Linked DNA regions of Homo sapiens: region 1 is linked to region 2. The links come from fine-mapping of genetic effects on gene expression. A gene starts in region 2. The other region holds a variant in brackets. All regions are shown on one strand. Distances are from middle to middle. Region 1 overlaps FTO (FTO alpha-ketoglutarate dependent dioxygenase). Region 2 holds the start of RPGRIP1L (RPGRIP1 like).

Region 1 (2,959 bases), 110 kb before region 2:
TACCAGAGGCTCACTTAAATGAAGCCCAGTGGAACTCAACCTTGGGTAGAGAGAAAAAAAAAATTTAAATATTCAAGTAACTTGGGAAATACCCTTCACTTAGAAGTACTAGAATATTCTGATTTTAGAGGACTGTATTTCTAATCTAGCTGTTAATAGATTTTGCTCCTAACACTTTCTATTTTGCACTCAGCAATTTGCACCCTATCACTCATTTTCTATATAATTTTTGTTGTAAAATGCTTGCGACTTGGCAGCCATCCGATGACTAACGGGCTAAACACTCGTCTGACCCAGACTCTGCCTGCATGATGCAAACTAGAGCTCCAGAAGGGATACACTTCTGGAGTCACTGTTCAGACTCTGCCACAGCTATCACAAGACTTGAGGTAACATGTGCTTTGCTACAAAATGACACAGAGATCCTCGTTCATTCATTCATTCATTCATTCAATACTTCATTTCATTTTGTTTATTTAACATTTCTCAAATACTTCCTATGTACCAGGCACTGTATAAAGTGCCAGACATACAAGGATTAAAAGAAGATAGGTCCTATTTGACAGCATCTCATAATTTAACAGTATAAACCAAAATGGAAACCAAAAGAGAAGAATGTCCTACAATAGAAGTGTGAGTATACTGCTGTGGGAGCAGGGAATAATTGGGAAGGAAAAGCTGGAAAACCCTTAGGTACTGAATACATATGTATTGAGCACATACTATTTGCAAAGCACTTGGGTGCTGAGAATATGGAAGAGAGCGAAACGTCTATTTTCTCTCTAGAAGCTCATGTCCTAGCAAGGTGAGCCAGACAATAAGCATATAAATAAGTAAAATATACGGTATTTTAGATGATGATAAGTCTACGGGGAAAAATAAAGCCGAGAAAGTAGGATAGGGAGTGCTGGGGTAAGTATGCCTACTTTCCACAGGGTGGTAAGGGAAGGCCTCTAGATACAGTGACATCAGAGCAGAAGAAAGCAAGAAACAAGGATACAATATCTGCAGATGCCTGGGGGGATGAGAGAGTTCCAGGTTGAGGGAACATTCAGTGCAAAGGCCTTGGGGCAGGAGTGAGCTTGGTTTATTCCAGGAAGAGTAAAGTGCCAGAATAGGAAGAAAAGTGTGAGGGGGGGTGGGGAGTGGGCAGGGGCAGGAAATGAGGTGAGGGAAGCAGTTAGGAACCCAAGCATGTAGAGCTTTGTGGGTGCATGTCAGGTCCTAGGCTGATGGGAAGCTATTCAAGGGCTTTGAGCAAGAAAGTGTAATGAGCTGATTTATGTTTTCAAAGATCATTCCGGATGCTGTGTTAAACTAGACCAGGGGAAGGAGGCAGAACCAGTCAGGAGGCTGTTGCAACAGAGATGATGGCAGTTT[T/C]GGCCACGGTGTAAGAAGCAGAGGTGGTGAGAAGCAGTCAGATTTTTCATACATTTTAGAACAGAAGGGATTTTCTGAAGCCTTCACAGAACATGTAGTGTTTAAGTAAAGTCTTTAAGAGTAGATGCTCACCAGACAGAAAAGGGAAGAGAGTACTAGTGGGCACAAAGGCAAGGAAGGATAAGAGGGCACAGCAGAGTCAGGGTGGAACCAAGAACTCCCTATGACGAGAGTTTATGATTGGGCGCCATTTTAGGCCATGGGATGAGATTACACCAGAGAGGTAGTTTAGGGTCAGAAAGTCAATGGCAGCTGGGTGCAGTGGCTCACACCTGTAATCCCAGCACTTTGGGAGGCCGAGGCAGGCGGATCACTTGAGGTCAGGAGTTTGAGACCAGCCTGGCCAACAAGGCGAAACCCTGTTTCTACTAAAAATACAAAAATTGGCCAGGCATGGTGACGCGCGCCTGTAGTCCCAGCTATTCGGGAGGCTGAGGCAGGAGAATCGCTTGAACCTGGGAAGCGGAGGTTACAGTGAGCCAAGACCGCACCACTACATTCCAGTCTGGGTGACAGAGCGGGACTCTGTCTCAAAAAAAAAAAAAAAAAAAAAAAAAAAAAACAAGAAAGTCAATGGCCTTATAGGGTGGATATGCTGAGGAATTTGAACTTGATCTTGGAAGCAAAGGCGACTCAACAAAATTTATAAAACAAGGAGGTACAAGTCAGTTCTGATGGCACTGGGGAGGGCATGAGGAACGCTAATCAGGAGGATGCTAAAACTGCGGAGGCAGAAAGTGATCAATGTGGCCTACATAGTTGAGGCAGTGTCTGTGGGATGGAAAAAGAAAAAACAATTTGAGAGATTCTAAAGAGGTAAAACCACCAGGGACCCAGTGACTAAATGAGGGAAGAAAGCAATGGATAGAAGTTGAGGGTGGTGAGCTTTCTAATCTCAAGAATGGGACTAGGGGATACCGTTAGAGAAGAGGCTGAATGGGAAGAGCCTTGTAGAAAGAATCCTTATTAAAATGTAAGTGACATCCTGTCACGCTTTGCTCCAAGCCTTCTCATGCCTCCTCATCTCAGAGTAACCGCCAATGCTCTTCTTACAGAACTTACAGACTATAAGTTCTCGTATAACCGGGCCTCTCTCTCTCTCTCTCTCTCTCTCTGACCGTCTCCCCTGCTCTCACCAGCTGTCTCCCTCTGCTCCAGGTATGTTGGCCTCGGGTGCTTTTCCTGTCAAGTATACCTGAGGCTTTGCTGTTCTGTAGGCCCAGAACATTCTTCCAACAAGTATCTACATGGCTTGCTCCTACATCACCTGCCCCACAAGAAATAAGCTCAAAGAAGACACGAATCTCTTGTCAGTTTTCACAACTTCATTTCTAATGCCTAAAACAGTACCTGGCACAGAGTCGGGGAGTGAAATCCATTTGTTTAATGGAGTAAGTAACTTAATGAATATGAATCATGTTGAGTTAGATGTAGCTGGAAGACTTTCAGGTAGAGCCACTCCGTAGGCAGTTGGAAGTGGAGAGCTGGAGGTCACAGGGAGAGCTGGGATGGGGACAGA
Region 2 (2,500 bases):
TGCTTTTTAAAATCTCTGTTGCCATTATTATGGTCATCCCATGGAATGGCAACTACCAGAAGCTGAACATCAAAGGTAGAGAGGAGCAATGTAGTTAAAGATTCATATCCACAGCGCTAAAAGACACAAACTGTTATCAGCCGGTCACGGAGACAATTGTTCCAAAGAAACACAGCTGACTGCACAGATATTTCATCTAAGCCGATCTCAGTCCTCAGAGACCATTATGAGAAAGCACAGCTGGTATGATCACAGTCATCTGAGAATCCGGTAAACTGAGGCACAGGGATGGCGACAAATTTAACCAAGGAATAGATGCAGAAGAAGGACAAGGAAATGGGTATCTTGCTTCTCATTTTTGAGCCGATCCAACAAGACTCGGCCTGCATCCTGAAGAGCACGAATTTGTAACATCCCCTCTAATATCTCCAGGTCCCTTGCTGACAAGGCCCTGTCATCCCTTAGTTTAACACCGCGCATCCGCTCGCCATCAAACCAAGCCCTTCCGGTTCCCTGATCCTTGCTCACAGCGCACGAAGATCTCCAGGCCCCGGGAGCCCGACATACCTTAGCTTCGCGCTCTCGTTCCTCGGCAGTCGGGGTGCGCTTCATGCTGCCACTAAAGCCGCCTTCGCCACCGCAAGCTGCGTAGATCCCTCGCCCTGGACCCCGCCTCCTGCATGTAGTTCTCTCAGCGTCCTGCTCCCGTCTGGAGCTATTCTCCCTCTGAGTAGAAAAAACTACAACTCCCAGGATGCACCGCGGCGACACCCGCGAGCGCCACGGGATTTAGCACAGGAGAATTTCCCAGGTCCGACAGCTGGAAGAGCGTAGTCCGCTACCCCGCGAGCAAACAGGCTAGAGTCCAAGGAGAACTACATTTCCCAGGAGGCTACGGGAGCCTGCCATGTTTCTCCCGTGCTCCTCTCGGCCAGCCGCCCGCCACGCTGTCGGCGCTATAGCAACGGTAGCTAGCTGCAGGGCCAGTGGCACGGTGAGTACCCGGGAGGATGGGGGAGGATGAGGGTGGGTGGAGGTTGCTGACCCTCCCCACTGCAGCGCGGGCCGGGGTCCTAGGGTCCGCTCTGCCGCCTGGAGAAGGCCCTGGAGTTGGCCCTGGAGTTCTGCTGGCGTGAAAGCAGCCCAGCCCAAGACACCTCCACATCCTCAGGCCTGAATCACAGGCCGCCCTTTATCCCCACGTCCAGGACCAATTTGAAATGTTATATCCCAGCCATGAAGGTGAGAGTTGATGCTGCTAATTGCCATCTCTATCCAGATCCTGCAAGTTGTAGGTCCCTAACACAGTTTGCTCATTTGCCCTGGATTAGGAGTTGGTTGGTAGACCCTAAACCTCCTGAGTGGTCTATTGTTTGCTTAATTATATATTATTTGTTTATCATGTGATTACCTCCATAACTTGCTAGCTTCATAAAGGCGGGGGTTTTGCTTGCCATTTTAATCTCAGTACCTGATATTCATTTATTCATTCAATAAATATTTTTTCTTTATTCTTTTTTTTGTGTGTGTGACAGGTTCTTGCTCCGTTGCCCAGGCTGGAGTGCAGTGGTAAGACCTCAGCTTACTGCAAACTCCTCCTCCCAGGTTCAAGCGATTCTTCTGCCTCAGCCTCCCGAGTAGCTGGGATTACAGGCGTGTGCCACCACACCCAGCTAATTTTTGTATTTTTAGTAGAGACAGGGTTTCATCATGTTGGCCAGGCTGGTCTCGAACTCCTGGCCTGAAGTCAGCCGCCCGTCTCGGCCTCGCAAAGTGCTGGGATTACAGGTGTGAGCCACCACGCACAGCCAATCATTCAATAAATATTAATGTTGGTTCCCACCCTGTACCAGGCACTGTTCCTGAACAGTTGTGAACAAGACTAATACCCGTCTCAAGATGTTTATCCTTTTTTAGTGGAGACAAACAATAATTTTATCTGATAACTTCAGATAGAGGCAGTTGCTATAAGAGATACAAGCCATGCTTGGTGGCACGCACATGTAGTTCCAGCTACTCGGGAGGCTGAGGTGGGAGGATCACTTGAACCCATGAATTCAAGGCCAGCCCGGGCAACATAGCAAGACCCTGTCTCAAAAAAAAAAAAAAGAAAAGAAAAGAAATAAACAGTGAAGAAATGTAAGGAAGACTACTCTAACATAGGATGGTCAGGGAAAACCTGTCTGAGGAAGTGAACTGAGCTCCAAAGATTAAGGAACCAGCTAATACAAAGGCCTTGAGCAAGACAAGGGTATGGGGGGTTCGAGGAAAGTAAAGAATAATGTAAGTGAAGCATAGTGAGCAAAGAAGGATAACATAAGATGGTGTTGGAGAGGCATTGCAGCATTGTGCAGGGTTTTTCAGCTTCTACACTATTATTAACATTTTGGGCTGGATAATTCATTATTATGTCTCCTAAGCACTGTAAGATATTTAGCATCATCCATGGCCTCTACTCACTAGATGCCAGTAGCATCCCGCTTCCTTGTTGTGACAACCA

What was found.
Region 1: its variant is fine-mapped to the expression of RPGRIP1L in vagina (GTEx, PIP above 0.99).

What each region holds. Positions count from the first base shown.
Region 1 is chr16:53,814,680-53,817,638 of GRCh38, reverse strand. The region is part of intron 2 of FTO (FTO alpha-ketoglutarate dependent dioxygenase); the gene reads right to left. Among named protein-coding and RNA genes, the nearest start is that of FTO, 110 kb to the right of the region's middle. The variant T/C (reference allele first, on the strand shown) is at 1,381.
Region 2 is chr16:53,702,297-53,704,796 of GRCh38, reverse strand. RPGRIP1L (RPGRIP1 like) reads left to right here and starts at 938. Exons shown (of 27, transcript NM_015272.5): 1 at 938-994. It overlaps FTO (FTO alpha-ketoglutarate dependent dioxygenase), which reads right to left and starts at 641. Exons shown (of 9, transcript NM_001080432.3): 1 at 568-641. The coding sequence starts at 612. RefSeq lists enhancers at 419-828, 443-943 and a silencer at 979-1,028.